Homo sapiens: one gene and its partners. The protein of the gene in region 6 purifies or fractionates together with the protein of the main gene of each other region. This does not show direct contact. Each region holds a gene or a part of one and is shown on either strand. Other genes may lie near its edges.

Region 1 (4,152 bases), on a different chromosome or scaffold from region 6:
GGGGGATGTGGGCTGCAAGAGTAGGGTGGAGGGGGCGACTGCAGGACTCAGTACCTGACCTCAAAGAGCTCACAATGTGTCAAGAGTTAAGACCTCTAATACAGGAGATACCCAAGGCAGTGTGAGTCGACTCACATGTGCGAGGCACACACAGATGTCGGCGGAAACTTTGGAGGCATGAACAAAGCTCCCAGAGGAGGGGCGCTGAAGGGTGGGGGGTGGGGCGTGGGGGAGTGCAGGTTGGAGAAGACCTTGAATGTCAGGCTAAGCAGTTGGGACTTCACTTCATAGGTAGTAGAGGGCCGTTGAACGTTTTTGAGCTGCCTGAACGATCCAAATTTCCTATAGAAGTTTACAGAACTCCTGAGGATGGGCTCTGCCTAACGCCCACTCCCCCGAGAATACTCTCCTTCCATCCCTCACACTTAGCTGCAGCCAGCACTGAACTTAATGCCATACTCTGAAACGTCCTTCACAGTCTCTGTACTCCTGGCTACGTTCTTTCCTTATATCGGGTCTCAATGTTAACAAACATCACTCCCTCTAAAAAGCCTTGCGGACACCGCCCTTTTCCCCCAAGCCTGGCCAGAGGCCCCTTTTCAAGGCTCCCACGCTTGCTGTGTCTCCCCATGAGATCACGGCTCTGTGCTGTCATTATTCATTTGTCTGAATTCTCTGCTAGACTGTGATTCTGTTGAGGCTAGGAGCGGTATCTTGTCCATCAGTGTCGCTAAGAACCAGCATTAGACAGTAATGTGGGATGGATGCGGCCCAGCAGATTACTCGGGTTCCTCCCCTTTCTCTGCCAGGGAGTCTTTTGAGGACAATGGAAAATCACAGGTGTCAACAGATGCAGGCTGGTAGGGAATGTCCCCTTAATTTGAATGATCAGTCTATTATTCTTACAGGAAGCAAAGTGTGCAGAAGACACAAAACAAACTCCAACCTCCTCCCACCTCCTTGAGAATAAAGCGAAGCGGGGACCATTTCTAGGCACGCCTGAGGACTATTTGAGGAGGGTGAGGCGGAGGGTTACGCACGGGACTAAGGCAAAACCCTCCGCTCGAGAGCAGAAATCGCGGCGGCACCTCTTCAGGCCACCAGGGGGAGGAATCACACCGCATCCCAGGCCTTGGGCGGTTTCGCACGACCACGCGGGGCTGGACGGTCGCGTAGAACTCTGGGAGGTGTAGTTTTAGAGTTGTAATGCGCAATCTCGCGCACTGTACATCGGGAATTGTAGTTCTAGATTGAGGAACGAGAAGTGCTTCCAAGCGTCCATTTTGAGCCTTGGAAACTACGACGACCAAAGGGCCACGGGTTCATGGGTCGTTTCTCATTTCCGTCGAGTTAAACGTCTGGGGCTGCTTCTGAGGAATCAGCTTGACTGGGTAAGTTTGATTGGAGAAAACACCTATATCTCAATTGAGCTTCCTGCAGACTTTTGTATTCTGGCCCGGTTTGGGGCCTCGGCGTCTCTCAGTCATAGGAATTGCACATTAATCTTCGTCCTTTACGTTTCCTATTCAGACACCTGTAGCCACCCGCTCCCTTGACCCTCCCACGGTCGCCTCGCACTTTTAACGGCCAGTGCCCCTGGAATCCCCACTGAGCTCCCGTCCCAGGACCCAGCCCCCGCAGCCCCACCTTGGACCCCACAGCCCTACCCTGATTCCTCGGCCCTACCTTCACCCTGCAGCCTCACATCCCTGAACCCCGGGCTTCTTTATGCTCCTCCACCCTTTGTGTACTTTACTCTTACTCTCAGTTTTCTGTTTTTCATGGCGGTGGAAGAAGGGTCCCCATTCCTTCTTTCCGATCCGCGATTACCCTGGACTCGAAGTCAGCAGACCCGGTTCTAGGCCAGCTCTGCCTCTCACCCTCTGTGACCTTGGGCAAATCATACAACTCTGGGACTCAGTTTCTTCCTCTCTAAAACGGAGATGACTGTTGCTCCATCAGTCTCAGGTGAGGAGTGTTGAGGAGCCAACAAGCTAGTATGTGTGAAGATGCCTTGTAAACTGTAAGACCTTCACAAGAGACAGAGATTATTTTTATCACAATTATTAATGCTCTGGAACACTCTTATCAGGCCTCTTCTCTAGCTCTGCCACCTTGTTGCTCAATCTCATCCCTCGAGTGCTTGGTGTCTTCATTGTCTACGAGCTGGATGATATTTCCTCACTTCCTCCAGAGACCAAAGGTCAGGCCAATGAGCTTTTAGTCTTCAGAGAGCTTTGTCTGAAAGGAAGCACAAGAGAAGTGCTTATCTTGGACTGTATCTTGAAATAGCCAGTGATGAAAGTGTCACACAGCTGGCAGAGCAGCAGTCCTCTGCTCACCAGAAACAGGGTCCCAGCAGGAGAGGACAGCTGCAACCTAAGCCCCATCCATTCCCTCTGGGCTCCTCTGGGCCTGTTCAGTAGACACTGGCTTTGGTAGGGGTGTCTGAGGCCTGAAAAGGCTGCTGGGAAAGAATCTGTTTTGCCAAAGGGCTTAATCCAGGAAAAATGAGAGACCTTGGCTAGGAAAGAGAGACATAGCATTGTTAATTAGTTCCTAACATTTTATAAGCACTGAAAATGCACCAGGCCCTAGGCAATATTTTCACTTACGAAGTATCCATTTTACGTATAAGGAACTTGAGAGGCATGTAGTTAAAATAATTATAGTTGCCTCCTATGGTTATAGTACCTTCTATCCATCGAGTGCTTTACATGCATTATTTAATCCTCATCAACAATCTCGTGAGTAGTTACTATTTCTTTTTTTTTGAGATGGAGTCTCGCTCTGTCGCCCAGGCTAGAGTGCAGTAGCGCGATCTCGGCTCACTGCAAGCTCCGCCTCCCGGGTTCACGCCATTCTCCTGCTTCAGCCTCCCAAGTAGCTGGGACTACAGGCGCCCGCCACCAGGCCCAGCTAATATTTTGTATTTTTTTTAGTACAGACAGGGTTTCACCGTGTTAGCCAGGATGGTCTCGATCTCCTGACCTCCTGATCCGCCCGCCTCGGCCTCCCACCGCGCCCGGCCCATAGTTACTATTTCTTTTTGAGACAAGACCTCGCTCTGTCACCCAGGCCGAAGTGCAGTGGCACAATCTTGGTTCACTGTGGCCTCCGGCTCCCAAGCCCCAGCAATCCTCCTACCTCAGCCTCCTGAGTAACTGGGACTGCAGTTGCATACCACCACATCCAGCTAATTTTTTTTTTTTTTAATTTTTTTATAGAGACAGGATTTTGCCATGTTGCCCAGGCTGGTCTTGAACTCCTGGGCTGAAGCAATCCTTCCCATTTGATCTCCCAAAGTTCTGGGATTATAGGCATGAGCCACTGCGTCTGGCCATAGTTATTATTTCTGTTGTGAGAATAAATTATCAGAAGCTTAGAGTTTGAGGAACTTGTTCAAGATCACACAGCTAATAAGTGACAGGGGTAGAATTCAGAGTCATCAAAACCTTTGTCCCCCATTATTTCATATAGCCTTATTTTTAGATCAAAAACAAAGATTAAAGAAGACTTGAGATGGGTTTAAATCATAGCCAAATGAAGGAACATTTATTGAGTCCCAACTATATGGGGAAAGCATGCAGATAGACAGTTTGGTCTACAAAAAAATATAAAACCCAATCTTTACCCCCGGAGTAGATCTGAAGAGATGAGGCATAAGTGTGCCAAAAATTAAATAGTATTCATTGGATAAATTAATTATTGAGACCAGCTATATGCAGGGCACTACATTAAGTCTAGTGATAGGAACATGCTTCTGGGTGGCCATGGGGATTATAGCAAGTGAAATCGTAGTCGTGAAAATGTGGACCAGAACACAGTATATACTCAGTAAGCGTCTGCTGCATGCATACGTGTCTGAATGAAAGAAAAGTTCATCCAGAGACATTTCTAATCAAAGTCTAGACCAGAGGTTCTCAAACTTTGCTGATCAGAAACACCTGGGAAGCTTTTACAAACGAATTGATCACTAGAAATAGGGGCCCCCAGAATATACATTTTTGAAAAGCTTCCCAGGTGATTGTGACAATAGGTTCAGGAACCTAAGATCTAGATTCTCTATGGACCACTGTTGCAGGCAAGTCACTGGTTGAAAACTGCTAGAATAGGTGTTAATCCAAGAGCTGCCCTAAAGTAGTCTAAGAT
Region 2 (3,500 bases), on a different chromosome or scaffold from region 6:
CCTCTGAGATCTTGTTGTGTAGTTACTTAATTACTCAGCCTCTTCTACTTCCTCCCTAACTGAAGCCTGGCTCTCCCCAGGAATACCACACACCACTTCCCCTACAACATGCTCTGAGAGGCAGCCACTTCCCACATCATAGGGTTGAGATATGGGGCTGCTTCTGGGTCATCCATTCCACCACCACCAAGTAATAAAACACCTTTCTTCTGTGGTTCATGTCATCCAGCTGTTAAATCTTCAGCTCTCCTTGTTACAACACTCTGTAGCTTCCTGATCACTTCTTTATTCACTTAATTTTTTTTTTTTTTTGAGATGGAGTCCTCCTCTGTTGCCCAGGCTGGGGTGCAGTGGCGCGATCTCAGCTCACTGCAATCTCCGCCTCCCAGGCTCAAGTGATCCTCCTACCTCAGCCTCCTAAGTAGCTGGGATTACAGGTGTGCACCACCACACCTGGCTAATTTTTCTATTTTTACAAATTAGACGGGGTTTCACCACATTAGCCAAGCTGGTCTCGAACTCCTGACCTCAAGTGATCCCACAGCCTCAGCCTCCCAAAGTGCTGGGATTACAGGTGTGAGCCACCATGCCCAACCTTATTTACTTAATACTTTGGATCCTGTTGCCCAGTATTCCTCTCCACCTCAAGGCTGGCTATTATCCTAGATGATTTTCACACCCAAGAGGAAGAACTAACCCATGTTCTGGCTTAGCAGTCATCCAACAACATCCTCCTCCTCCTCCTCAACCACCCTCCTGTGGTTGCCTTTTGGACCTTCTTCTCCTCGGAAGTGTTCAAACTCATTCTCCCAAGCTCTAGTACTACATAGCTAACTGTTTGCTTGATACCTCATAGTCAACACGTCAAAATCAAATTTACTTTTCATGATTCTCACTCTACCTCTCAACCTCTTAATTTCACTGTTTTTTTTTTGTTTTGTTTTTTGAGATGGAGTTTCACTCCTGTTGCCCAGGCTGGAGTGCAGTGGCGCACTCTCGGCTCACTGCAACCTCCACCTCCTGGATTCAAGCGATTCTGCTGCCTCAGCCTCCAGAGTAGCTGGGATTACAGGAATGCACCACTATGCCCAGCTAATTTTGTATTTTCAGTAGAGATGGGGTTTCTCCATGTTGGTCAGACTGGTCTCGAACTCTCGACCTCAGGTAATCCACCTGCCTCAGCCTCCCAAAGTGCTGGGATTACAGGTGTGAGCCACCACGACCACCAATTTAGCTCTTTTTACTCCTTCCCTTCCTCTCCTACTATTTTCCCTATCTTTGTTAATGGCAGCACGAGTGAATGAGAGCCAACATTCAAACTGCTAAGTCAGAAATCTGGGAGTCATCCTCAGCACCCTTTCCCTCCAACCTAACTCCCACTTCCAAGCAGCCACCTCCTAAATCTCTCTTCAGTCTTTCTAGTTTTCTCTGTCCTTACAGCCATCAACCCAACTTCAGCCACTACTCTCTCTTATCTAGACCACTGTTGGCAGCCTTTTAACTGGGTTTCCTGCCTCTAATCCCACTCTACAGCAAGCCCCAATGTAGCTAGAGTTTAGTCACATCACTTATCCTGTTGACTGGACTTTACTGGCCTTCTTTGACCTTAGGATAAAGCTCCATTCCTTACCAGGGCTTATTAGGCCATTTCATGACCTTTCCATCTATCACCTCTTTAGCTTCAGAACTTGCTGATCCACCCTAGAGTTGTGTACTTCAGCTAGACACCTTGAGTTCCTTGAATATGGCATGAAGGCTTCTCGCCTGTAGGCCTTTTCCACGCGCAGTTCTTTCTATGCGGAATACTATCTTCACCCCCACTAACTTCTACTTTTAGATCTCCTTCAACAGCTCTCTAGGAAAGCCTTTTCAATGTGCACTTTCTCCTTTTCCCCCCATACACTTAGGTCAGGTGTTCCTCTTCTGCACTCCCAAAGTACCTTGTGCTTCAGTTATCATAGAAAAATATCACACTCTGTCTGTATCCCCACTTCCAGAAACTGTAAATTCTTTAAGGACGGGGAAGTTCAATTTAATATTCCTTGGACCTAGTACTATTGACAATTAAAGTTACTTAATAAATACTACCTGTACTAAGAATAGATGGGAGGAAGGAAGAAATGCTACTGGAATCTGGTAACAATGGGCCAGGGATCAAAATATTCATAACCTGAGTGCTTATGAGTAACTAGATGTTAGAAGTTACTACCTATTTGAAGTAATTAACACTAAGATGTGATTAGAGCTTAATCCTGCCAGAGGCCAGTAGTTTTCCAAATTGCTAACTGGACTGACAAAGACGTGTATGAGTATATTACAAGACTGTACAGTGACAAAAGCAAAATTTATGCATGACTGGAATTTCTGCTCCATCCCTACAAGCTGTGTAACCCTGGGCATGTTACTTAGCCTCTATGTCTCCATTCTCAAAGATTGGGATAACACTGACCTCACAGAGCTGTTTATGAAGATTAAAGGGCAATAACATACATCAAGTGCCAGACAATAAATGCTAGTTTCCTTCCGTGTTCTACTTCCCTTTTCCCAATAAGACAGTTTTGCCCCAGCAAACCTCGACTCTCTCATTTGGCCAGAGGAGTCCTGGGGCAGGGTCTCCTATGGCAAAGCCACACTCTAGGAGCAGCTTCCCTGAAGGGTTTTTCATGAGCCTCTTATAGGAGACTGAAGGCTTCACTACTGTGAGATGCCATTCTGTATATGAACAGGCTGACACTTCAAAATACAAGAGGGACATGGCCTTAGAACTCTGAATCTCCCCCAACCTAGGACTGCAGCTCCAGGCAAAACAACAAAGCCACTAATGTGGAATCCTAGTTACAACAAGGACAAGGTTGAACAAACAGTAAGTAGTTAAACTTTTCATGCATAACAGTGTACCTAGTAAGGCATCTCTCTTACCCCCTCAATCCCAAGAGCTTTACAAAAGAAGGGGAAGGCTGCTTAATGACAGCTGACAAACACCCATACGTCCTGTATTTTTGAGTATACGCTTCCACAGAAAGGAGCTCTACACCACACCCAAGCCTAACCAGCCTCAAGATGTGGACACAACAATAGCATACAGCAGTTGGCTGGGGATCAGGGCTGAGTGTGTGGCCAGGAAGCTTAAGCAAATGCCACAGCTTGAAACAGGAACAAAGGACAAGAAGAGAGAAGACTCAAGTTCCTGACCCAATAATGGGTTTTATTCATTACAGCCAGGAATACAGAAGAAAATATAATCCATTTCTGTATTACAATGGACTGTAAACATGTAAACCTTGAGACAGCTCACACCACAGAAAACTCTTCACACATACACCTCTCTGACCCCTACAGACCCAACCTCCTTTCTTCAGCTGACTTTGTTGTCAGTGGCTCCAAAAAGGTCATGGAACCTCTTGAGGATGATGCAAATTGACTCTATTTTATCACTTATTTTCAGGACCAGTAGAAGAAATTTAGGAAACTGCAGAAACATAAGAGTGATCCCTTTCTTT
Region 3 (3,500 bases), on a different chromosome or scaffold from region 6:
TGGTACATTAGTTTGTAAAATGCTTTCACAGCATTAACTCATTGTTAATTCTTATACCGCCAAATGAGATATCATTTCTTTCCTATCCATCTGTTTTACAAATGAGGAGACAGGCTCAGAGAAGTAACCTACTTATCTAAGGCCACATAGCTAGTAAGTGGTGGAACCAGAACTGGAACTAAGGCCATTTAACTGCAAATACTGACCTCCTGTCATTTATCAAGCCATTTTCAGACGGCATGATATTCTCCTGAGGAGCAAAGGAATGGAATTAGAGCTAGCACAAGGAGAAATTGTGCATAGCTTGCTGCCTACGTAACTTATGCAGAAGATCTGAGCAGTCTTCCTGTTTTTAGGGATATTTTGCACATGTGAACTATATAGTGAGAAAATGTCAAAAACTAATACATGATATACTGTTTGTCTCTTAGTGTCCATCCTTGAGTAATAGAATTTTGTTTTAGATTTATTTGAACATTTACCATCACAATTAAATTTTAGGTCAACAACCAGCCTTGAGAAATCCAAATACCAATTTGACTATAAATATAGTAATACGTTTAACTGCAATAACTATAGCTATAAGTGCGTACCAAACCATGTTTTTTCCAAATGACCTTAATTTCTTGGCACTACCCATGTTGGATACCTCATTTGCTTCCCCAAAGACTGGGCCCAAAATTTCTGTTGTTTCTACAATGATTCTGCCTGCCAACAAAGTCTGAAAATCTCAAGTTTGTTATAAAAACAGCACAGTTAGAACATGATGACATTCCTGGAGGGAAAAATAAGTCCACTTATTTGTTTCTAAAATGCCTGTATCCCAAGCAACTAGAACACATAGTTGGCTATACTTAATGAGGAGTCAAGACAAACCATTCAATTCTTCTAAAAAAGTAAGAAAGTATTCAAAGCACCAGAGTCACAATGTTGAGCTCAGGTGCAATTTTCTATTCACTTTACTTCCAGCATGGTCGGGTTAAGAGTGGACTACATAGCTTGAAGCGGATTTCGTTGAGATTCGTTGTAATTGAATCAACAACTGAATGAGCATGCCTAAGTAGTGGCTCCAGAGAGTCTGCTTTCAGATTTTCTTGCCAGCTTTGACCCAAGATTACCCTGGGTCTGCGAGTTTTATCACCTGCTTTATCATTTGATTACAAGTATAGTATAACTGTATTTCCTTGTGGGATAGAAGCTGTAAAAAATAAGCTGAAAATAATAGGGGATATATATAAATAAACGATCTGAGAAAGAATAAAGAAAATAATTACAATCATGCACATGATTTACTCAACTTCATTCTTTTACCTCTTTTTAATGGTGTTAAATGCTCACAATTTATATTTATACTCTGTCGAATGTCAAAAAAAATTTTTTAGAGAGAGGGGTTAGTGCATCGGGGATATTTATTTGGTTATTATTTTATATAATTTTTTCTTTTTCTATTTTGGCTTCAGGGAATCTAAATTGAAAAAAAAATACTAGGTAGCAGAATTCTGATATCTAGTGTACAGAGATCAAATCTTAGTCTGAAAAAGAAGGGCCTAGTATGTCTTATCTTTAGTTATTGGAGTTACACAGTGAGAAAAAAAAATTTAGTGACCTAATACTGTGAAGAAGTTTCCAGAAATAGTAATCTCTTTTTGTGGAATAGAAGGAGAGGCTATACTACCTCCTTAAGTCTCAGGACCTTTTTGAAGATTGAGAGGCTGTTTTAGCCTCTGCATCTGCCTGCTAGAGAAGAGTAAGAACATGGCAGAGAATCCCAGAAATGTAGAGCTCTCTCATTCATCTCTGTATCCCATGCTTATTTAGCATAGGTATCTAGCACAGAGACTCTCAATACTTGTTAAATGAATACAGTGCAAAGTCTTCCTCCTTATACACTGAAGAGATTTAATAACCTGGGGATTCTTATCCAAGCTTTTCTAATTGGGTCTGGAAAATATATAAGAAAACACTGCCTGTTAGGATAAACATCCATCATAGCTGCTGGAGCACTGCTCCCTTTTTGAGAGCTGAGTGAAGAATGAAAGAATGAAAGGTGTTCATTTATTTTTATACTCCAGGAGTCAAGAGTTTTGCTACCAAGGATTTTCCATTTAAAGTGTGAGGTAGAGGAGAAAAGTCCCCTTCAAGTGTCACTAAACATAGGCATTTGCACAAGCTGCTTAACATATCATACCAACTCATTCATCAAAGAATTTAATTAAAGAAGCCATCCCCATTTAATAAGACTGATAAATAGAAACCCTCGTCAGGGATGATACAATTAGCTCGAATTGTGTAACTTCAGCAGGATACCAATTGTTCAAATGTATTCTATTGCCTTTTTGTTGACATTTTTTAAAATTCTTGGGCCCTCAATGGCAGGCATTTTCTTCTTTCTCATATAGGTGAATCTTTATCATTATGGAACTTATGGTCATTTGTTTTGGATTTTAGATGTCTTGTCTTGCAATATATTCCTGGGTTTACCTTGGGACTTCTCTAATAATAATGATGGCTATTCATATGTGTCTGATGGCTCTTAACACACAAGAAACTAAGGATAAAAATATGGCATACTCAGTCACATTGGAACTTGGTCACACAAGTCTTTTGAGATATCTGTTTCCCTGCATCTGTACCCATTTTCTATCAGATCCATCTTTTGATCTGTGAAAAATGGCAGATAATACTTGGTACATTTTACAGGTTTGGTGGCCTAAAACTCCAGGCCTGTTTAACTTCTTAACAATTCAAGAATTATATGGATGGAAAATGTTTTTCTTTACATTTCTTTCTTTATATAGGAAACTGTAATTTAGCTCTAAATTCAACTAGCCAGCTGGGACTAGTCTAATCATTGAGAGACATGACACCAAGTAATTCCGAGGCTCAGCTTTAATCTTGACAACATTCCTGTCACATTCACTTCCATGATAGAAGACAGATTGCTTTAGAAGACTTAAGTTACCTTGACCTTAAACTAGAACTTTTTATTAACAGCTGTTCCCAAGATAAACATTTAATACCTCTCTGGAAGGGAGAGATTGAGAACATTTACTGATTCATCAAAACCTTGGGGATTTCCTTGTTCTCTGAAGCGTCAGTGATATTTTTATTAGCTCTATTTTTATTTCTTAGGTGCTTAGAAAAATTCCCATCTTTTCCCATCAGTGACCATTCACTAGTTCAAAATGGGAAAAACAAAATCTTTGTTAGACTTTCATTTCTTTCGGTTTATTCAACCTTGTATTTTAATTGTAGATAGGGATAAATTATCTGGTGTTTGATACCCTTAGAAAGTTCTTCCCACCTGGAGTGTAAATTAGTTTAACCATTGTAGAAGATAGTGTGGTGATTCCGCAGACCTAGAGGCAGAAATGCCATTTGACCCAGCAATCCTATTACTAGGTGTATACCCAAAGGAATATAAATCATTCTGTTATAAAGATACAAGCACACATATGTTCACTACAGTACTATTCAATACTATTCAATAGCAAAGACAT
Region 4 (3,500 bases), on a different chromosome or scaffold from region 6:
GTTTTGCTCCAGAAGGGTCACTTCAGCCACCAACTGGAGACAGATTGGGAGGCAAAAGAAGGCTGAGGTAGTCTTGGCCAGACAAAAAGTAGGCTGGGCGCGGTGGCTGTCACCTGTAATCCCAGTGCTATGGGAGGCCAAGGCAGGAGGGCCACTTGAGGCCTGGGCAACATAGTGGGACCCTGCCTCCACAAATAATTTTTTTTTGTTTGAGACGGAGTCTCACTGTCGCCTGGGCTGGAGTGCAATGGTGTGATCTCAACTCACTGCAACCTCTGCCTCCCGGGTTCAAGTGGTTCTCCCGCCTCAGCCTCCCGAGTAGCTGGGATTACAGGCATGCAGCATCATCCCTGGCTAATTTTTGTATTTTTGTAGAGATGGGGTTTCACCATGTTGGTCAGGCTGGTTCTTGAACTCTTGACCTCAGGTGATCCACCTGCCTCGGCCTTCCAAAGTGCTGGGATTACAGGTGTGAGCCACTGCGCCCGGCCAACAAATAATTAATTTGAAAAAATATTTTCAAAAAAACCAAAAGAGATGGAGCCCTGAACTTTGACAGTAGCTCTGGGGTAGATTTGAGGGCTATTTCCAAAAGGGGATCTACCAGAATTAGTAGCTAAAGAGATGTGGGAGCCTTGGGCCTCTGGCCTGGGTAGCTGAGAGCTGGCAGAAGGAGTCATTCCAGGAGAAGAGCAGGCAGGGTGGAGGTGGGACAGCAGGAGGGGGCGGTGACCCCACTGAGTGCCATGGCGTGCCAGCCATGGCGTGCCAGCCGCGGGCACCCCTGTTCCCCTTTGTGCTCTCATCTGGAGCTCACCACAGGGATTCTTCCCATTTCACAAGAACAGAAGCTGAATCCCAAAGCGTTTCCTGAATCGTGGCCTGGTGAAACAGCTTAGCTTCTGCAGAGCTCGAGAGAAAGAACGGATTTGGTTTTGCAGAGGTTAAGGCTGAGGCGGCAGCAGGAGATGTGGATGGTGGTGCCCAGAGGGTGGTAGGGAATGGCTCTGGAGTTCAGAAGAGATGCTGCCGTGGCCAGGCGCGGTGGCTCACGCCTGTAATCCCAGCGCTTTGGGAGGCCGAGGCGGGAGGATCACGAGGTCAGGAGATCAAGACCATCCTGGTGAAAACGGTGAAACCCCGTCTCTACTAAAAATACAAAAATTGAACTCCGGGGCCAACATAGCAAAACCCCGTCTCTACTAAAAATACAAAAATTAGCCAGGCGTGGTGGTGGGCGCCTGTGATCCCAGCTACTCAGGAGGCTGAGGCAGGAGAATCGCTTGAACCTGGGAGGCAGAGGTTGCAGTAAGCCGAGATAGTGCCATTGCTCTCCAGCCTGGGCAACAAGAGCAAAACTCCGTCTCAAAAAACAAAAGAAAAAAAGAAAAAGTTAGCTGGGCATGGGGGTGCACGCCTGTAGTCCCAGCTACTCGCCAGCTACTCGGGAGGCTGCGGCTTGAGTCCAGGAGTTGGAGGCTGCAGTGACCTGTGATTGCACCACTGCACTCCAGCCTGGGTGACAGAGCAAGCCACGGTCTCTAAAATAAAATAATAAGATAAAGAACCCACAGGGCATGTCCAACAAAAAGAGAAGCATCATCAGGAGTGGGTACCTGGGAAGGAGAAGAGGGTTTTGGGAGGTGAGCAGAAGTAAATAGAAGGAAGACTGAGGATGGGGCTCTGCACTTAGCAACTGTGAGGCCTGTGCCAGAGCGGTTTTTGTGCCATGTGTCGGGGGCAGAAGCCACATTGTCATGCTCGAGGAGCGCACGGGAGGTAGGGAAGTGGGGGTGTTGGTGTGAACCACTCCTTTCAAGAGAAGTGGACACAGTGGGGCCTCTGCCTGGGCTGCACACCAGAATCACAGGGAGCTTTTCAAACTTTCAGATGCTCAGGCCCATTCCAACCCAGTGAACCAGAATCTCTGGGGGTAGTTTCCAGGGATCCAGGTTGGGGAAGAGCCAGCCCCCACCCTGCTCTGTGACTCAGATGCACATGAGGATCAAGAATCAATGCTCGGCCAGGGGCGGTGGCTCATGCCTGTAATCCCAACACTTTGGGAGGCCGAGGCAGAAGGATCGCTTGAGGCCAGGAGTTTGAGACCAGCCTGGGCAGCATAGTGAGAACCCATCTCTACAAAAACAATTTTAAAAATTAGCTGGGCATGGTGACACACGCCTGTAGTCCTAGCTATTCAGAAGGCTGAAGTGGGAGGATCCCTTGAGTCCAGGAGTTGGAGGCTGCAGTGAGCTATGATGGAGCTACTGCACTCTGGCCTAGGCAACAGGGTGAGACCCTGCCTCAGGGAAAAAAAAAAAAGAACCAATGCTCTCATAAGACCACATATTGGCTGGGCGTGGTGGTCACACCTGTAATCCCAGCACTTTGGGAGGCCAAGGTGGGCCTAAGATCACCTTAGGTCAGGAGTTCGAGACCAGCCTGGACAACATGGTGAAGCGCTGTCTCTACTAAAAAAATACAAAATTTATCCATGTGTGGTGGTGCACGCCTGTAATCCCAGCTACTCGGGAGACTGGGGTGAGAGAATCGCTTGAATCTGGGAGGCGGAGGTTGCAGTGAGCCGAGGTTGCGCCACTGCACTCCAGCCTGGGCAACAGAGTGAGATTCCATCTCAAAAAAAAAAAAAAAGAATCAGTCAGGTGTGGTGGCTCATACCTGTAATCCCAGCACTTTGGGGCATTTGAGACCAGCCTGTGCAATATAGTGAGACCCCTATCTCTAAATTAAACATTTTTTAATCAAAAAAATAAAGTTTCAAAGACTCTTAAAACATACTAACCAATCACAAAGTGTAGATTTTACTTAGATCCTAATTCAAACAAACTAAAAGCAAATTAGGCTATTTATGAAACCACTGGAATCTGGACATTGAATGTTTGATAACACCAAGGAAATTTTTAAAGTTTAGTTTTGACAATAGTATTGTGGTTGTAGTAAAAAGAAAAGTCTTTATCTTTTAAGAAAAAAACATGATGAGGCTGGGCGCAGTGACTTGCGCCTGTAATCCCAGCACTTTGGGAGGCCAAGGTGGGTGGATCACCTGAGGTGAGGAGTTCAAGACCAGCCTGGCCAGCACGGCAAAACCCATCTCTACTAAAAAAAAAAATGCAAAAAAATTAGCTGGGCATGGTGGTGGGCACCTGTATCCCCAGCTACTTGGGAGAGTGAGGCAGGAGAATCACTTGAACCTGGGAGGCAGAGGTTGCAGTGAGCCAAGATCACGCCATTATACTCCAGTCTGGGCAACAAGAGCGAAACTCCATCTCAAAAAAGAAAGAAAGAAAACATGCTGAGATGTTCACATATGAAAAGATTTGAGCCAGGCACGGTGGCTCATGCCTGTAATCCCAACACTTTTGGGAGGCTGAGGTTGGAGGATCGCTTGAGGCTGGGAGTTTGAGACCAGCCTGGGCAACACAGCAAGAACCCATCTCTAAAAAAAAAAAAAATTTATTTTAATTAGCCAGGTGTGGTGG
Region 5 (4,147 bases), on a different chromosome or scaffold from region 6:
TACCCTGGGTCCTGACTCAGGTGGGCTGGGTCATCCCCGTCCATCAGGGAAGGTAGTGCGGGCGCCCGCGGAGGGGCTGGTTCCCACGTTCGTCCTATCAGGTTCCCCACGTACTCCTTCGCCCAGTGTCCTGCGGCCGGGCCCGGCGGATTCAGAATGGGACCTGGCGTTCTGAGACACAGCCCCAGTGCCGGTAGTGGGGGGTGGTGGACTGCACTCCGGGGCCATTTAATGTCTTTAGGCCTTGAGTCTCGGCTTCGGTCCCAGTCAACGCCAACGGGAGAGGAAAGAGGAACCAAGTGGGGTCCCCAGACTTCCAAGCAAGGTGGGCTGGCTAACGTCCCTCCTACCTGTCGCAGGGCAGCTGGGTGAGAAGCTAACGGCTTGAAGGAACAGGGCTACAAGGGGAGTTTGTGCTGGGCCTGGCGTCCCAGGCTGTGGACTGGAACTGGACATGAGAACCCCCCCTACACCCTCCCAAGTCAAAGACACTCCAAAAAGACAGTTTCTCCACTTTATTAGCCTGGAGCTCCTCCCTGCCAGCCCCAGGGGCTGGTCGCTGGTCCCTGGGCACAGTGAGCAGGGCTGAGGTCAGACGGGTTCGGCCCTTGGCCATGGCAGCTTGGTTGGGACAGCCGGGCCAAGGGAAAAAAAGGTGCAAAAGTCCAAATGCTGGCACTTCAGGTGTGGCCGGCACCCAGCCAGGCGCAGTGGGTGGGCAGGGCGCCATGCTTCTCTCCTGGCGACAGGTCGGCCGTGTAGCAGCGCCCCCTCCCAGCAGCCACTAGGAACAGCTGGTGATTCTCGCCAGGAACTGCTGCGCCCACCACTCGTCTAGGTCAATGGGCACAAAGTCTGTGGGCAGAGAAGGCTGGGCAGTGATGCTGCCTCCCAGGCCAGCCGGCAAGTCTCCCCTGGAGCTAACCACAAGCCGCTCACCCGGACTCCGAGTGCGGCAGGCGCTGGGAAGAAGGGGTTTCTGCACAAGAGTCCCCTCCCTCATCCCCTGGGGTGGGAACCTGGCAGGGCCTGGGTCAGGATCAGAGGGGCTGGGGGGTCTCTCCTGGGGGGACAGGGTTGGGGGGCTCACTCTGCAGCCGGGGATTGGGGGTCCTCTCCACGTACTGCACAGGCCTTGGCCCGCCCTCACCGGCTGGGCCACCATCCAGCTGCTGTTGCACCTGCTGCCAGGCTGTGGGAGGAGGGCAGTCGGGCTGAGCCAGGTCCCAGGCACCCCATCGCCCACCCAGGGCCTGATGGTCACCCTGGACTCCAGCCCCACACAGGGCTGGTCACAGGACACAAGGGCAGAGTGCCAAGGAAAAGCACAGCCATGCAGCGGCTGTGGGTCAGCTTGAAGTGGGGCCATCCCGGGTCCATGGTTTTGCGACCCAGCAGCCTATGCCGCACCCTCTGGCCCCGCTCGCTACCTTCGGACACAAAGCGGACATTCTCCTCGTGGGCCACTGTGTAGGTCTCCTGGGTCCCCTCGAAGGATGGGGACGTGGAGGGGGCCCGCCGGCCATTCACACGATTGAACACAAGCCTTGGCCCTGGACTGCAGGAAGGGAGGAGACGGACATGGTTGGTGCCCATCCCAGGTGCGGTGCTGCCTGGCAGAACTCAGGAGCAGCCCCGGGCCAGCCCACTTTCCCCAGACTTGGCCAGCCTAGGCACTTCCTGAACCAGAGAGAGCAGCCACCCACAGCAGCCGGTGGCCCAGGCCTCTCTTGCAGTCCCCAAGCCATCGGCAGCTCAGCTCACACCTGCAGCCCTGTGTCCTGAGGGAAGTGAGTGACTGTAGGGTGGGGGCCTCAGTCTTAGAGTGTCCCAAACCTTTGGTCGGGCCCCACTCAGTACCCCTCCCCGAGGGTCTTGCAGGTGCCCATGCTGCCACCTGCATCCCATCAGCAGCCCAGATTCTGACCTGAGCCACGACCCAGTCCATGACCATGTCTCTCTGCCCCAACCCCCCCACTCTGGGTGTAGTTCTAGGCCACATTCTCGCCCCACAGAAGCACCTCCATCTCCACGATGTTTCCCTCCATGGACGGATGGACCTGGACGGGAACGGGGGCCTTTGCCCTCTCCCTGGCTGCCCCCACGTCCCATGGGATGAGGACTGGGTGCCGGGATGGGCAGTCCCTGAGTCGGGAGAGTGACTATAACCCTCGCCCACTCCCCACCGGCCCGAGACAAGGGGCGATGCCAAAGGAGATGGCTCCCGCAGTGCCGCACGCAACGTCTGGTGGGCCCCTGGGCCCGTCCCGGCCAGCCGGGCCCAGGGCAGGGATGAGCGGCCCCAGCTGGCCGAGCCCTGAGCACACAAAGCCCGGGACAGGGCCGTGGAGGGAATGGGGCCGCACCTACAGCCGGAGGTGGGAGCCGGGAGTCCTGGGCTGCGCCTGCTCCGCCAGGCACTCGCGGTCCCGGCCGGCCTGTTGCCTTCCTGGGCTCAGGTGCCCCAGCGCCGCTCTCGGTTCCTCCTCAGCTGAGAGGGGCACTAAAATAAAGAGGAGTGTCTTGAGGGGCGCAGGGTCCTGCCGGCCCCAGGGCTGGCAGGGTCTGGTGGCCACAGAGGATCTTAAAACGTGCAGGTGGAGATGGGACAGGGGCAGGGGCACCTCCCAGGCCTGCCCGCTGCCTGAGTTTCTGCACAAACCACAGGGAATAAAGTTTGTCCACTTGGAAAGCCCCCTTGCCTGCAACCCACTCCCACCTCGGAAAGCCAGAAACTCCAAGAAAGCTTGGAGGTTGGATTATCAATGTCTAAGAAGACAAGAACATTGCCAGGGGCTGTGAATCGAAGGGCGGAGGTGGCGGCTCTCGGGCAGAGATGGGCCCCAGGAGGCAGGCACCGCCCCAGGGGCTCTGGTTACGTAAGGCTGCTGCTCTCTGGGGGAAAGGGCACCGGCCCGGCGAGCACCTATGGATCACCGCCAACCTCTCCCACTTCCAGGGACACTGCTCCGGGCAAACTTCAGCCCAGGGAGGTGAAGGCTGTGGAGTGCATCCTCTCCTCTCCCCTCCACAGCCCATCCCTTTTTCAGCCCATGAAGCTGGGCTTGGGAGAGAATCCACCTGAGCATATTACATGCTGGGTGGGGGCAGCACCAGGATATCATAGCAAATCCAACAACAGAGTCCATGGCCCTGACCCAGTACAGCCCCCAAGCCAGCCCCTCAGCCTGCCCTCACTGGGCCTCCCCACCCCCGTCTCTTGCAGGCTGCCCCTTCTCGCCCTGTGGGGTTCATTCCATTGTCCCTTCCTGTGGCGGTCCCCACACCCTCCATCTGCCCTGGGGTCGGGTGATCACATGGCCCCGTTTCATCTTATTACTTATATCGCCTCAGTTTATCTTACTGCCTCCCCTATCCATCTCCCACCAGGAGGAAGAACTTGTCAAAGGTGTATCTGGGCTGGGCGTGGTGGCTCATGCCTGTAATCCCAGCACTTTGGGAGGCCGAGGCGGGTGGGTCGCCTGAGGTCAGGAGTTCAAGATCAGCCTAGCATACGTGGTGAAACTCTGTCTCTACTAAAAATACTAAAAATTAGCCGGGCATGGTGGCGGGCACCTGTAATACCAGCTACTCCGGAGGCTGGGGTGGGAGACTCACTTGAACCTGGGAGGCGGAGGTTGCAGTGAGCCAAGATCACGCCACTGTACTCCAGCCTGGCAACAGAGCAAGACTCTGTCTCAAAAACAAACAAAGGTGGCCGGGCGCGGTGACTCACACCTGTAATCCCAGCACTTTGGGAGGCCGAGGTGGGTGGATCACGAGGTCAGGAGATCGAGACCATCCTGGCTAACACGGTGAAACCCCGTCTCTACTATAAACACAAAAAAATTAGCCGGGTGTGGTGGAGGGCGCCTGTAGTCCCAGCTGCTCGGGAGGCTGAGGCAGGAGAATGGCCTGAACCCGGAAGGTGAAGCTTGTAGTGAGCTGAGATCACACCACTGCACTCCAGCCTGGGCTACAGAGCGAGACTCCATCTCAGAATAAAAATAAAAATTAAAAAAACAAACCAAGGTTTATCTGGTCTGTCACTGTCGTGGGCAGTGCCCAGACCCATGCCTGGCAGGAACCAGAGCCAGCATACATCATGGGTGACAAGCCTTGACCCTCTGGGTGCACCAGGAGATGT
Region 6 (3,500 bases):
GCCACCGCACCCAGACAGTCTGGGTTCTTTCACTCAATGTTATGTTCAAGATTAATCCATGCTATTGCATGCATGGCTACTGATATGGCTTGGCTTTGTCCCCACCCAAATCTCATCTTGAATTGTAGCTCCCACAATTCCCACGTGTTGTGGGAGGTAATTGAATCATGGGGCCAGGTCTTTCCCATGCTATTCTTGTGACAGTGAGTAAGTCTCACAAGATCTGATGGTTTTATAAAGGGGAGTTTCCCTGCACAAGTTCTCTTCTCTTGTCTGCCACCACGTGAGACATGCTTTTCACCTTTCACCATGATTGTGAGGCCTCCCCAGCCACGTGGAACTGTGTGAGTCCATTAAACCTCTTTCCTTTATAAATTACCCGGTCTCTGCAATGTCTTTACCAGCAGTGTGAGAACAGACTCATACAGCTACTTCATTCCTTTCTGTGGCTGAGCCACATTTCATTGCATGGACAGATCACATTCTGTATCCATTCATCTACAGACGGACATTTGGGTTGTGTTCACCTTTTGGCTGTTACAAATAATGCTGCTGTGAAGATTCATATACACGTTTTTATGTGGGAGCACGTTTTTCTTTCTCTTGGATAAATACCTAGGAGTGGAATTGCTGGGTCATATGGGGGCTTCATGTTTAACTTTTTGAGGAGCTCCCAAATTATTTTCCACAATGAGTGTGCCATTTTCCATTCCCATCAGCAACATAGGAGGGTTCCGATTTCTCCACATCCTTACCAATACTTTAAAATATATATACATATAGCCCAGCCTGGGCAACATGGCGAGATCTCATCTCTACAAAAAATAAAAATGTTTTTTAATTGTCCAGGTGTGGTGGTACACACCTGTGGTCCCAGCTACTCAGGAGGCAGAGGTGGGAGGATTGCTTGAGCCCAGGAGTTCAAGGCTGCAGTGAGCTATAATCGCACCCCACAGCACTTCAGCCTGGGTAGAATATTTTTTTCTGTCTGAAAAAATAAAACTAAAAATAAATAAATAATAAAAATATAGCCATCCTAGTGGGGGCTAAGTGTGAAGCAGAGGCTAAGCTTTTAGGATCAGTGTCACAATCATGGGTCCCTCTGCTCTGGTCTCCTGCCCTGAGGCAGCTGGGGAGGAGCCCCACCACTCCGCTGCCTGCCAAGTTCAGGTGCAGGGCCTTTGCACCACAGAGAAGCTTGATCCTTCGGAGGTGAGGTAGCAGGACCTCTCAAATCGACATCACACCCTGACCCAGGAGAAACTGAGCCCAGCTCCCCAAATTCCAGGATGGTGACCACCAGATTCCAGTAGGCCCTGGCTTTGAGGAATCTCTGTTGGGTTGTGAGGGGCTGCTGGGAGGCTCTTACCACACAGTGCCCGCCTGGAGGGCCTGGGACAGGTAATTGGCCTTGTCCAAATCCTTTGTGAAGACAGCTGCGGCCAGCCCGTACGTGGAATTGTTGGCTCTCCCAACAACCTCCTCTATGGTCTTGAACTTCAGGATCTGCATCACTGGCCCGAAGATCTGGAGTGAGAGAGCAGCGTAGGAGGGTTCGGCAACACGGAGGCACCTGCCATCGAGCTCTCTCAGAGCAGAACAGATGATTCCAGATTGGGGGATAAGCCCCCAGCCATGCTCTAACAGTTCCAGGGGAAGACAACAGCCATCAAGCTCAGCAGAACACAGAGGGAATGGAGCTAACAGGGGCCAACTTCCTCCTGTGCGCCCCGGGCTTTACATACAGTATCCCATTTCTAAACAATCCTGCCAGGTATGTTATTCACACGTGACACGTAGATTTAGTGTCAAAGAATTTAAGTCAGCTGGGCATTGTGGCTCATGCCTGTAATCCCAGCACTTTGGGAGGCCAAGGTGGGAGAACTGCTTGAGTCTAGGAGTTCGAGTCCAGCCTGGCAAACACAGAGAGACCCTGTCTTTACTCAAAAAAAAAAAAAAAATTTTTGGCCAGGCACGATGGCTCACACCTGTAATCCCAGCATTTTGGGAGGCTGAGGCAGGTGGATCACCTGAGGTCAGGAGTTGGAGACAAGCCTGGCCAACATGGTGAAACCCCATCTCTACTGAAAATAAGAAAAATTAGCTGGGCGTGGTGGTGTGCGCCTGTAATCCCAGCTACTAGTAGGGTCTGAGGCAGGAGAATCGCTTGAACCCGGGAGGCAGAGGTTGCAGTGAGCTGAGATTGCACCACTGCACTCCAGCCTGGCGACAGAGTGAGACTCCATCTCAAAACGAGAAGAGAAAAAATAAGCCGGGCGTGGTGGCTCATGCCTGTAATCCCAGCACTTTGGGAGGCCGAGGCAGGCAGATCACGAAGTCAGGAGTTCGAGACTAGTCTGATCAACATGGTGAAACCCTGTCTTTACTAAAAATACAAAAATTAGCCAGGCGTGGCTAAAACTGGAGACAGAGTCCCGCTCTGTTGCCTAGGCTGGAGTGCAGTGGCGCGATCTCGGCTCACTGAAACCTCTGCCTCCCAGGTTCAAGCGATTCTCCTGCCTCAGCCTCCAGAGTAGCTGGGATTTCAAGCAAGCGCCACCACGCAGGGCTAATTTTTTCTTATTTTTAATACAGACAGGGTTTTGCCATGTTGGCCAGGCTGGTCTCGAACTCATGACCTCAGGTGATCCACCCACTTCGGCCTCCCAAAGTGTTGGGATTACAGGCGTGAGCAACTGCACCCAGCCTGTACTAAAAAATTTTTTTAAAATTAGCCAGGCATGGTGGTGAGCACCTGTAGTCCCAGCTACTCAGAAGGCTGAGGTGGGAGGATCATTTGAGCCCAAGAGTTCAAGGCTATAAGGAGCCATGATTATGCCACTGCACTCCAGCCTGGGCAACAGAGCAAGAATCTGACTGAAAGAAAAAAGGTCATGGGAAGGAGCAGACAATGTCATTCCTAGACTCCTGGCTCTGAGGGCCAGGACACCAAGGCCTGCAGGCCATGCTGAGGAATGCAGACGATCTCCCAGACAGAGGGTACAAGCTGAAGAGGAGGGACAAGATCAGATACATACTATGAATAGCGTGTTATGGGCACTGGTTCTGGGTATAACTTGAGATCTGGCCCCAAGCCAGCAGATGGGTGACAGCATCAGGATGCCAGGCTGAACTGTTTACCTCACCTCCCGCCAAGAATGTTTCCAGAGCACTGGCCCCAAGTGCTCACCTCCTCCTTGGCGATGGTCATGCCATCCTGCACATCTCCAAACACAGTGGGCTGGATGAAGTAACCACGGTCAGCAGCAATGCCCCCACCACACAGCAGCTTCGCCCCCTCTTGCTTCCCCGTGTTGATGTAGCCGAGGATCTTCTTAAACTGAGTTTCATCCACCTGTGGGAGAAGGAACCCAGAGTTATGGAGACATCGGATTCAGACCTCTCCTAGGCTTCAGGCTTAGAATTATGCAGGCAACAAGACAACTGGGAAATGGACCAAGGTCATAAGAAAGCAAGATCAGAAGAGGAAACACACAGGG

Evidence for each region.
Region 1: the proteins of ALDH2 (region 6) and PAFAH2 fractionate together in Homo sapiens (co-fractionation; one large-scale study listed by BioGRID). This does not show direct contact.
Region 2: the proteins of ALDH2 (region 6) and HEXA fractionate together in Homo sapiens (co-fractionation; one large-scale study listed by BioGRID). This does not show direct contact.
Region 3: the proteins of ALDH2 (region 6) and ESD fractionate together in Homo sapiens (co-fractionation; one large-scale study listed by BioGRID). This does not show direct contact.
Region 4: the proteins of ALDH2 (region 6) and QPRT fractionate together in Homo sapiens (co-fractionation; one large-scale study listed by BioGRID). This does not show direct contact.
Region 5: the proteins of ALDH2 (region 6) and MCRIP2 purify together in Homo sapiens (co-immunoprecipitation; one large-scale study listed by IntAct). This does not show direct contact.

What each region holds. Positions count from the first base shown.
Region 1 is NC_000001.11:25,995,264-25,999,415, reverse strand, and holds the start of PAFAH2 (platelet-activating factor acetylhydrolase 2, cytoplasmic), read left to right. Parts: upstream 1-1,352; 5' UTR 1,353-1,391; intron 1,392-1,794; exon of another isoform or gene 1,795-1,943; coding exon of another isoform or gene 1,944-1,968; intron 1,969-4,152. UniProt on the Homo sapiens protein: Catalyzes the hydrolyze of the acetyl group at the sn-2 position of platelet-activating factor (PAF) and its analogs, leading to their inactivation. Hydrolyzes propionyl and butyroyl moieties approximately half as effectively as PAF.
Region 2 is NC_000015.10:72,366,015-72,369,514, forward strand, and holds part of HEXA (beta-hexosaminidase subunit alpha isoform 2 preproprotein), read right to left. Parts: intron 1-3,500. UniProt on the Homo sapiens protein: Hydrolyzes the non-reducing end N-acetyl-D-hexosamine and/or sulfated N-acetyl-D-hexosamine of glycoconjugates, such as the oligosaccharide moieties from proteins and neutral glycolipids, or from certain mucopolysaccharides.
Region 3 is NC_000013.11:46,773,162-46,776,661, reverse strand, and holds part of ESD (S-formylglutathione hydrolase), read left to right. Parts: intron 1-3,500.
Region 4 is NC_000016.10:29,682,180-29,685,679, reverse strand, and holds part of QPRT (nicotinate-nucleotide pyrophosphorylase [carboxylating]), read right to left. Parts: intron 1-3,500. UniProt on the Homo sapiens protein: Involved in the catabolism of quinolinic acid (QA).
Region 5 is NC_000016.10:644,828-648,974, reverse strand, and holds the end of MCRIP2 (MAPK regulated corepressor interacting protein 2), read right to left. Parts: intron 2,504-4,147; exon of another isoform or gene 2,367-2,503; intron 1,559-2,366; coding exon 1,431-1,558; intron 1,193-1,430; coding exon 1,091-1,192; intron 856-1,090; coding exon 785-855; 3' UTR 501-784; downstream 1-500.
Region 6 is NC_000012.12:111,797,933-111,801,432, reverse strand, and holds part of ALDH2 (aldehyde dehydrogenase, mitochondrial isoform 1 precursor), read right to left. Parts: intron 3,356-3,500; coding exon 3,191-3,355; intron 1,600-3,190; exon of another isoform or gene 1,528-1,599; coding exon 1,370-1,527; intron 1-1,369. UniProt on the Homo sapiens protein: Required for clearance of cellular formaldehyde, a cytotoxic and carcinogenic metabolite that induces DNA damage.